2 linked regions of the Homo sapiens genome follow. The protein of the gene in region 2 purifies or fractionates together with the protein of the main gene of each other region. This does not show direct contact. Each region holds a gene or a part of one and is shown on either strand. Other genes may lie near its edges.

What was found. Proteins that work in one complex are often made in the same cells at the same time.
Region 1: the proteins of MFSD2A (region 2) and MON2 purify together in Homo sapiens (affinity purification with mass spectrometry; one large-scale study listed by BioGRID and IntAct). This does not show direct contact.

What each region holds. Positions count from the first base shown.
Region 1 is NC_000012.12:62,549,350-62,554,894, reverse strand, and holds part of MON2 (protein MON2 homolog), read right to left. Parts: intron 5,228-5,545; coding exon 5,065-5,227; intron 2,015-5,064; coding exon 1,721-2,014; intron 1-1,720. UniProt on the Homo sapiens protein: Plays a role in regulating membrane trafficking of cargo proteins. Together with ATP9A and DOP1B, regulates SNX3 retromer-mediated endosomal sorting of WLS away from lysosomal degradation.
Region 2 is NC_000001.11:39,964,079-39,968,779, forward strand, and holds part of MFSD2A (sodium-dependent lysophosphatidylcholine symporter 1), read left to right. Parts: intron 1-1,132; coding exon 1,133-1,256; intron 1,257-1,392; coding exon 1,393-1,471; intron 1,472-1,778; coding exon 1,779-1,936; intron 1,937-2,522; coding exon 2,523-2,613; intron 2,614-2,732; coding exon 2,733-2,854; intron 2,855-3,007; coding exon 3,008-3,091; intron 3,092-3,549; coding exon 3,550-3,633; intron 3,634-3,725; coding exon 3,726-3,838; intron 3,839-4,255; coding exon 4,256-4,399; intron 4,400-4,490; coding exon 4,491-4,667; intron 4,668-4,701. UniProt on the Homo sapiens protein: Sodium-dependent lysophosphatidylcholine (LPC) symporter, which plays an essential role for blood-brain barrier formation and function. Specifically expressed in endothelium of the blood-brain barrier of micro-vessels and transports LPC into the brain.

The DNA of each region.
Region 1 (5,545 bases), on a different chromosome or scaffold from region 2:
TGAATCTGGAAGGCGGAGCTTGCAGTGAGCAGAGATCACGACAAAACAAAAACACACACACACAAAGGTAAGGAGAGGGGTCCAGGACAAAAGTAGAATTACTGGAGATGGCTCACACCTGTAATCCCAGTGCTTTGGAAGGCCATAAAGTGGGGATGATTGCTTGAAGCCTAGAGTTTGAGAACAGCCGGGGCAATATGGTGAGACTATCTCTACAAAAAAAATTTTAAAAATTAGCTGGGCTTGGTAGTGTGAGCCTACAGTCCTAGCTACTCAAGAGGCTGAGGTGGGAGGATCGCTTGAGCCTGGCAGGTCAAGGCTGTAGTGTGCTACGATCAGGCCGCTGCACTCAAGCCTGGGTGACAGAGCAAGACCCTATCTTTCACTCACAAAAAAAGACCAACTGTAGCCTATGAATAATTTCTGTGTTTCTCAAAGTGTGGTCTCTGAACTAACCAGCAGCATCAAGCTTCACCCAGGAACTTGATAGAAATTCAAATTCTCAGGACTCACTCCAGGCCAAAATAATCAGAAACTCAAGTTCAGGGAGGGCTGACAATAGTGGCTCAAAAATCTGTGCTTTAACAAGTCTTTAAGGTGATTCTGTTATTCTCTAATGTTTAAGAGACTGAAGTAGAATAGTCTGGAAATCAATTACAGAAAATAAGACAATGCAAGGTGTGTGAGAAAAAAATCATTAAGAATTAGGCAGCAAGAAGATAAAAAATGAAGTTGCTTGAAAGGAAAATTAGAATCAGAAAAGTATTAGATTAAAAACAAACTGTATGGGAGAATTAAGCATGTTTGTGATCTGAGGAGGAACTATGGGATGGAACTGAAATACAAGACAGAAGGAAAGAGGGCTTTTACTATAATAGATATGGGGTTTCACCATATTGGCCAGGTTGGTCTTGAACCCCTGACCTCAGGTGATCCTGCTGCCTCAGCCTCCTAAAGTACTGGGATTACAGGTGTCAGTCACCATGCCCAGCCCATTAATTTTTTAAGAAGACATTTTGGGGTCTATTAATTTGAAAAACTCACAAAAGCAAGTGAAAGGATTATAAACAGAATTTTATTATAATGGAACAGATGGAACAAAAAAGATGAGACTTTTAGCAAAGAGGGAATGATCACTAATAAACTGCTGATTTTATTAGAAAGTTTCAAAAGAAGAAAAAAATGAAATTGTAATTTAATGAATAAACATTACATGTACAATATACCATTTGGAGGTTACTTTTGTTTGGTGAGTCTACAAATAAACTTCATTGCTATTGATATTCATCTGTTAATAAAATTCTCTTTTGATTATATTTAAATTACATATCTATAAGTAGACCTCAAAAGTAAAACAAACAAAAACCCCAAAAGCTTTCTACTCTATGGTAAGGGATTGATTACCCTTTGTTGTTTAGTAACTCCTGGTTTTTACCATTTGGGAAAACTGGGGGAAAAAAAGGAGACAGAAAGGCAAAGGCAGAAATCACGAGAGATATAATAATAAGAGATGAAGACAGAAACAGAGATAAGGCTGTTAATATTTAATTTGCTCTTTATGAGGTACAATTTACAATATGACACAGTTATTTCCTGTTTTGTCAAATACACAAATGCATGGAAATTCTTTAAAAATTAAAAGAAATAAGTTTAACTGAAAAAGTATTAATATATAAGCATGACTCATTAAAAGCTGATAGTCCAATCTATTTTACAATACCTTCCAGATAACAGTGTGCCAGGTTGAATGCTGTAATAAAGTTCCATGCGCACCAATTGTAGAAAACAGAGTTTGCCCTGCACTCTTCCTGACAGCAGGACGGGGATCCACACATAGTTCACCCAATTTTGCATAAAGACATAACCACAAGCAATCAAATGGCGGTGCAGGGTGGAATGGCCGATTTAAAACAACTCCTTTCTCTTCTGCCTGCTTTTGCTGTGCTGCCTCTTCCTTATTTAGTTCTTTTTCAATAGTTTCCCCTCTTTGGAAAAAATAATCTGAAATATTCCACTAAAAAGCAAAGTAGAAAAATATTAGTTCATCCAAGGTTTTGTTTTAAACACATAAATATGCAACATGTGGCTGTTTTACCTTTCAGAGTAAAACTTTAAAAACATTACTTCAAAAATCTCTTTCCTAGTAGAATAGATTCAATGAAAACATCTCTTCTTCTGTCAGTGTCTCTACATTATTTCAGGAGAAAGTGGGGAAACAATCTTGAGCTAACTTTTTTTTTTTTACTTTTTTATTATAAAAAATGTCAAGAACATACAAAAAACCAAGAATAGTATAAGGAACTTGAACATATTGATGTATCTACCACCTAAATATAACAACTGTTAACTATAAAAAAAAACTATAATATCATTATCACCCTAACAATGTTAACAATTCCTTAATATTGTTTAATAAGTTTGTAATTTCATACACGAGCAATTACTGTTTCCAAACATATCTTATATTAATGATAATTATGCCAATGGTTAAAATGTAGAGAATCCAGTACTGTGAACATAAATGTAAAATAAAGGAGGTGCTATCCAGCAGTAATTTAAGCAATGTTGCACTAGCCACCCACTTGCAATCATATATGCAACATGCTTACATTTTTTCCCATGTAAAAATGGGAAAAATAATAGTAATAGTAAAATACAGTTGTCCCTCGGTATCCGTGGGGGATTGGTTTCAGGACCTCCCACTGCATACCCAAATCCACAAATCCTCAAGTCTGTTATATAAAATGGTGTAGTATTTGAATATAATCTACACACATCCTCCTGTATACTTTGAATAATACTAGGTAACTTTTAATACCTAACATAAGGTAAATGCTATGTAACTAGTTATACTGTATTTAGGTAATATTGACAAGAAAGCCTGTACATGTTCAGTACAGATACAACTATCTTGTTTTAAAAAAAAATTTTCTATTTATAGTTGGTTGAATCTACAGATGCAGAAGCCACAAATATTAAGAGCTGAACGTAGGAAGAGATGAATGTAGTAACTTATCTAGCTTGTGAGGAAAATTTAAAGTTCAAATTTATAAAACTTCTGAGTTTTAATATACATTTAAAAGATTCTAAATAATTGCCTTAAAATATATGTTGAAAACAATTCTGTGCATGTTTATTTCATGTAATGTTAACAATTCTCTAAGATTTCATTACAGAGATGCCTTGTTTTATTGCACTTCTCTTTGTTGTGCTTCACAGATAATTGTAATTTTTATAAATTGCAATTTATAAAGGTTTGTGGCAACCCTGCATTGAACAAGTCTGTTGGTACCGTTTTTTTCCAGCAGCATGTGATCACTTTGTGTCTCTGTGCCACATTTTAGTAATACTTGTAATATTTCAAACTTTTTAATTATTACTATGTCTGTTATGGTGATCTATGATCCGTGATCTTTGATGTGACTATTGCAACTATTTTGGGGTGCATGAGCCGCACCTATGTAAGATGGCAAACTTAATGTGAGTTTTCTGACTGTTTCATCGTCAGGTTGTTTCCTCATCTTTTTACTTCTTCTCAGGCCTCCCTATTTCTTGAGATACAACAACAGTGAAATTAGGCCAATTAATAACCCTACAATGACCTGTAAGTGTTCAAGTAAAAGGAAGAGTCGCATTTGTCTCACTTTCAATCAAAAGCTAGAAATAATTAAGCTTAGTGAGGAAGGCATGTCGAAAATCAAGACAGGCCAAAACCTGGGCCTCTTGTGCCAGTGAGCCAAGTTGTGAATGCACAGGATAAGTTCTTGAAGGAAACGAAAAGTGCTACTCCAAAGAACAAACAAACTATAAGAAAGTACATCATGGCGGGCGCCTATAATTCCAGCTACATGGGAGGCTGAGGCAGGAGAATCACTTGAACCCAGGAGGCAGAGGTTGCAGTGAGCCAAGATCATGCCACTGCACTTCAGCCTGGGTAACAAGCGCAAGACTCCGTCTCAGAAAAAAAAAAAAAAAAAAAAAAAAAGAAAGAAAGAAGAAAGTACAGCAGGCTTATTGATGGTATCAACAAACTTTCAGCTGTCTGGATAGAAGGTCAAACCAGCTACAAGATTCCCTTAAGCCAACGCCTAATCCAGAGAAAGACCCTAATTCTCCTCAATTCTATAAAAGCTGAGCAAGGTGAGGAAGCTGCAGAAGAAAAGTCTGAAGCTAGCAGGGGCTAGTTCATGAGGTTTAAGAAAAGACGTTATCACCATAACCTACAAGTACAAGGTGAAGCAGCAAGTGCTGATGTAGAACCTGTAGCAAGTTATCCAGATCTAGCTAAGATCACCGATGAAGGTGGCTACACTGACCAACAGATTTTCAATGTAGACAAAACAGCCTTTTTATTATTATCATTTTTTTTTACAGAGACAAGGTCTGGGTCTGTTGCCAAGGCTGGAGTGCAGTGCTGTGATCATAGCTCACTGCAGCCTCCAATTCCTGGGCTCAAGCAATCCTCCCATCCCAGCCTCCCATGTAGCTGAGACTACAGGTGTGCACCACCATACACAGCTAATTTTTAGTAGAGATGGGAGTCTCATTTTATTGCCCAGCCTGGTCTCAAACTCCTGGCCTCAGCAATCCTCCCACCTCAGCCTCCCAAAGTGCTGGGATTACAGGCATCAGCTACCATGCCCAGCCTGAAACAGCCTTGTACTTGAAGATGTCATGTAGGACTTTCATGGCTAAAGATAAAAAGTCAATGCTTGGCTTCAAGGCTTCAAAGTACAAGCTGATTTTCTTGTCAGGGGCTAATGTAATTGGTTCACATAAAAGTCAACTGAAGATTTCCCTTGTATATACTATTGTTTACTAAACCCTTTCATGACAAACCCTGTAAAACCCAAACTTCAGCTCAATGTATGAAAATTATTTCAAACATTTTGTTATTAATATTTAAGTGATGTTATTTAATCCTTCACCCAGACGTAAGTTTGAAATTTAAAAGCCATATAAACAATTTGCAAAGAGCTAAAAGTATATTTGCTTAGCATTCACTCCCAACTGAATAACAATGATTTCTAAATTATATTATATTCTAAGGACAATGATACTTACCAATAAACCTATTGAAGTTAAACTAATATTGAGTTCTTGGTTATGGAGGCCAAAGCTACCTGCAACATCTACAACTATTTGCAGGCAAGTACAAGGCATTGTTGGTAGAAAATCTGTCACAACCAACTGAAGACACTGGAATGCAGTTCGTATCAAGGATTCTCTGAAAACAAAAGAAATGTATACAGATGCACTTATTTTATTTATTTATTTATTTTTGAGACAGGGTCTCACTCTGCCACTCAGGTTGGAGTGCAGTGGTGCGATCATGCCTCACTCTCAACCTCCCTGGATCATGTGATCCTCCCACCTCAGCTTCCCCAGTAGCTGGGACTACAGGTGCACACCCCCATGCCCTTTTTTTTTTTTTTTTTGTGGAGACAGGGTCCCACTATGTTGCCTTGGCTGGTCTCAATTTCCTGGGCTCAAGTGATCCTCCTGCCTTAGCCTCCCAAAGTGCTACGATTACAGGCATGAGCTA
Region 2 (4,701 bases):
TTACATCCTTCCAAAGCGAAATTATGCAATATTTATCTTTTTGTGTCTTGCTGATTTTCCTTGGCTTAATGTCTACAAGGTTCATCTATGTTGTAGCATGTGTCAGAATTTTATTCCTTATGAAGGTTGAATGGTATATATAACTTTTAAATTATGTCAACTTTTCTGTTTGCCAACTAGTATGTAAGTTCCACAAGGGCAATGATTTTTTATCTGTTCTCTAGTTATCCTAAGTAATTAGAATAGCGCCCAGCCCATAGCTGGAACTTATGAGGAAATGAGGAAACGAGCTTCAGATAATTTAAATAACTTCCCAAGACTAAGTTTTATAGTTAGTTGGTGGAGCTAGAATGGAATCCCTGAAGAGTGGCTCAAAGGCCTTTCTCTTTACCATGGCCTGTGCTGCCTTGCTATACTGATGCCATGAAGTTAGTCCATCCTGAGGTCTAACCCCTTTTGATGGTGTGGAACTCACATGGGGAAGGCGGACATTTGCCCACCTGGGCCTTCAACTCCTTCACTTGGAGCTGGCCTCTCCCCATCATGCCAGCTTCCCTGTGTGTGAATGGGTGTGTGTGTGTGTGTGAATGGGGTGTGTGAAGTGTGTATGTGAATGGGGGTGTGTGTGAATGGGGTGTGTGTGTGTGAATGATGTGTGTGTGAATGAGGTGTGTGTGAATGGGGTGTGTGTGTGTGTGAATGAGGTGTGTGTGTGAATGGGGTGTGTGTGTGAATGGGGTGTGTGTGTGCGGTTGATGACTATCCGTGTGAGAACACGGGAGTTGGGGCTGCTCCTTCTCTTTGCCTCCTTGCCCAGGCACCTGAGGTCTTGGACTCCTGTCCTAACTCTCAGCCCATTAGAGGCTGCTGCCTCTGGACTAGACTCAGGCTCTGACCTCACACTCCATGCCTAGGATTTCAGTCTGGGGTCCCAGTTCCCATCTGCCATTCCGGGCTTGGTCATCAGCCTCTTCCCAGAGGCCCAGGATGGGTGGATTTGGCAGGAGTATGGGGAAGGAAGGAAGAGCTTAGCTTCCTTCCCTGTGGGGACCCTGTGAGGCACAGCAGACTGGGCTGGGCCTGGTCCTGGGCTCCAGCCTCCAGCCTCCACTCACACCCTCCTCTTCCTCAGGATCATCTTCTCCACGCCCCTGGCCGTCATTGCCTACTTCCTCATCTGGTTCGTGCCCGACTTCCCACACGGCCAGACCTATTGGTACCTGCTTTTCTATTGCCTCTTTGAAACAATGGTCACGGTGAGTGTGGGTACCTCCCTTGGGTGTCTCTAGGGGCCGGGAGGAGGGCGGTCCTTGGGGCCCCCAGGGTTGGTACTGGAAGCTACATCAGTGTGTCCACCCGCCTGACCAGCCAATGACCTGTCTTCTATGCCAGTGTTTCCATGTTCCCTACTCGGCTCTCACCATGTTCATCAGCACCGAGCAGACTGAGCGGGATTCTGCCACCGCCTATCGTGAGTCTCCCCAGCCCACCTGACCCCACCCTCCAGGGACCCTCCAGCCATACTTCTTCCCTTGCGGGTCCAGCTCTTTGCTCTGCTCTAGAGTGTGGGTGTGAAACCATCTTAAAAATAACTCAATCCCCTTATTGCTCAGATGAGACCTGGAGAGGTGCATATGCGTTCAAACCAAGGTGTCACCTACCCCACTACCTCTACCCACCCTGCCTGGAGCTACCGCTGGGCTCCCACCCATTTGACCTTCCTCCCTGGGCCCACAATCCATGAGGCCCCTCCAAAACACCTCCTTTTCTCCTGCCAGGGATGACTGTGGAAGTGCTGGGCACAGTGCTGGGCACGGCGATCCAGGGACAAATCGTGGGCCAAGCAGACACGCCTTGTTTCCAGGACCTCAATAGCTCTACAGTAGCTTCACAAAGTGCCAACCATACACATGGCACCACCTCACACAGGGAAACGGTGAGGCCCTGGGCAGGGCAGGGATTTGGGGAGATAAGGAACAGTGAGGTGGTTTGTAGTCATCCTAAAGATAGTAACAGCTAGTGTTTATTAAATAAATGTTGGGCATTTGATATACATAACAATTAATGCACCCAATATACCTACTTTGCAGAAAAAGAAACTGAAGCTTAGAGAGGCTGAATAAGTTGCCCAGAGTCATAAAGTTAGTGAATTGCAGAGATTTGGGAAGATTTGAATTCTGGGCTGTCAGACTCTGCAGCCTGGTTTCTGTTTTTTTCCTTTTATTATTATTTGTAGAGACGGGGTCTTGCCAAGTTGCCCAGGCTGGTTTCAAACTCCTGGGATTACAGGTGTGAGGGCTGCACTCAACCAGCCTGGTTTCTGAGCATGTTGTGAATCTTAACTGTCCAGCCTTGGGAAGCAACAGCAGGCCCAGGATGATCCTCCCATTTCACACATGGAGACAGTACGCTCCCAGAGGGGAGGGGACTGGCCCAAGATCATTGAGTGGGGCTGCTGGAACTGGGGTGCTGGGATGAGCTCAAACTGACCATCCTTGTATGTCGCCTTCACCTCCTTATAGCAAAAGGCATACCTGCTGGCAGCGGGGGTCATTGTCTGTATCTATATAATCTGTGCTGTCATCCTGATCCTGGGCGTGCGGGAGCAGAGAGGTAAGGGGGTGCCTGGGAAGGGGTGCAGGCCTCAGCATGGACAGCTGTATCTTTCTGCCTGGCCCTCAGGCTTTGGGAGGGGTCTCTGCTCCTTCCTCACTGTCCGCTCTGGCCCCCAGAACCCTATGAAGCCCAGCAGTCTGAGCCAATCGCCTACTTCCGGGGCCTACGGCTGGTCATGAGCCACGGCCCATACATCAAACTTATTACTGGCTTCCTCTTCACCTCCTTGGCTTTCATGGTGAGTGGGTTCTGACATGCTCAGCCTGAGAAGGAGGTGTAATGGGAGCGGGGTGAGCAGAGGTCTCTGGGGCTTGGGGGATGTCTTGGGGAGGCTCAGCCCCAACATCACCTCCTTCCTTGCATTTCCTTCCCTACCTTGCTCCATGCCCAGCTGGTGGAGGGGAACTTTGTCTTGTTTTGCACCTACACCTTGGGCTTCCGCAATGAATTCCAGAATCTACTCCTGGCCATCATGGTGAGTGGGACCTGAGCAGGGGCGGGCAGCCTGGGCTGAGGTGACATAGGCTGTGGAATGGTTCTTGGAATAGGCAGAGGATGTTTCTCAGGCTGGCCCAAGGTCATGAAAGGATGAGGGAGGCTTCTCAGGGTATTTGGTTGGACCTTGCGAAGGTAGGACTGTGAAAGAAAGAGTTTGAGGTTAGATGTTTGAGTAGTGAGCACAGCAAAAGCAAGGGCGAGGACACCAGGAACTTGGCTCAGAGGTTTGAGAGGGCAGCAGACAAGGTGGGCCTGGACCAGCTCTGAGCTCCCCTGGGGAGCCGTCAAAGGTGCCTGTCATCTTCGTTGCTGCCCACATGATGTCATCTGGCTGCTCTTGGGCAGGGCTGGGAGCCACTTTGGGGTTCTGGGAAGGGCAGGAGGGGCTCTGTGGCTCTAAAGCACCTCCCTTTAACCCCCTTTGTCCATCCACAGCTCTCGGCCACTTTAACCATTCCCATCTGGCAGTGGTTCTTGACCCGGTTTGGCAAGAAGACAGCTGTATATGTTGGGATCTCAGTGAGTGGGGTTGAAGAGCAGAGCCTGGGTTGAGTTGGGATGTCTGGTGGGAACCTCCCAGCTGATTCATCTTCCTGCACCCCCTTCCCTAGTCAGCAGTGCCATTTCTCATCTTGGTGGCCCTCATGGAGAGTAACCTCATCATTACATATGCGGTAGCTGTGGCAGCTGGCATCAGTGTGGCAGCTGCCTTCTTACTACCCTGGTAGGTATATACAGGCCCCCCTCCTCGGGTATCTCCAGCCCCTAGTCCCCAGTTTTGAAGCTCCTTAGGGAGAGTTCTATGCAGTGTTCTCCCACAGGCCATTCTGTGGGTCCAGGTTAGGAGTGGGGGAGGTCTGTCCTGTACAGTTGTACAGGTAGTGAGCTTTGCAAGAACACCTAGTCAGAGTGAAAAATGGGGGCTGTAATCTGGCCTGGGCTCCACTTGCCACGCTGAGCACCTCCAGGCAGGGTTACTTCCTCTTAGAGCAAGAGGCCTTTTCTTATTCATGTGAAGGTCCCATATCCTCACTGAGCTGTGTACCCATGGTACTGCAAGCTTCCAGAGGGCCACCTCTTCTCATTAACACAGAGGCCCGTTAGGTGGGTCAGTCCTCATGGCTGTCACTACTCTGCGCAGGTCCATGCTGCCTGATGTCATTGACGACTTCCATCTGAAGCAGCCCCACTTCCATGGAACCGAGCCCATCTTCTTCTCCTTCTATGTCTTCTTCACCAAGTTTGCCTCTGGAGTGTCACTGGGCATTTCTACCCTCAGTCTGGAGTGAGTGGGGTGGGGACCTGGGGCAGGACTGGGCAGGGCCAGGCCCCAGGTGCCCCATCTTCACCGTTCTCCTACCCCCTGGGTCCCATAGCTTTGCAGGGTACCAGACCCGTGGCTGCTCGCAGCCGGAACGTGTCAAGTTTACACTGAACATGCTCGTGACCATGGCTCCCATAGTTCTCATCCTGCTGGGCCTGCTGCTCTTCAAAATGTACCCCATTGATGAGGAGAGGCGGCGGCAGAATAAGAAGGCCCTGCAGGCACTGAGGTGAGTGGGGAGGGGACAGGATGCTGGAGGAGGG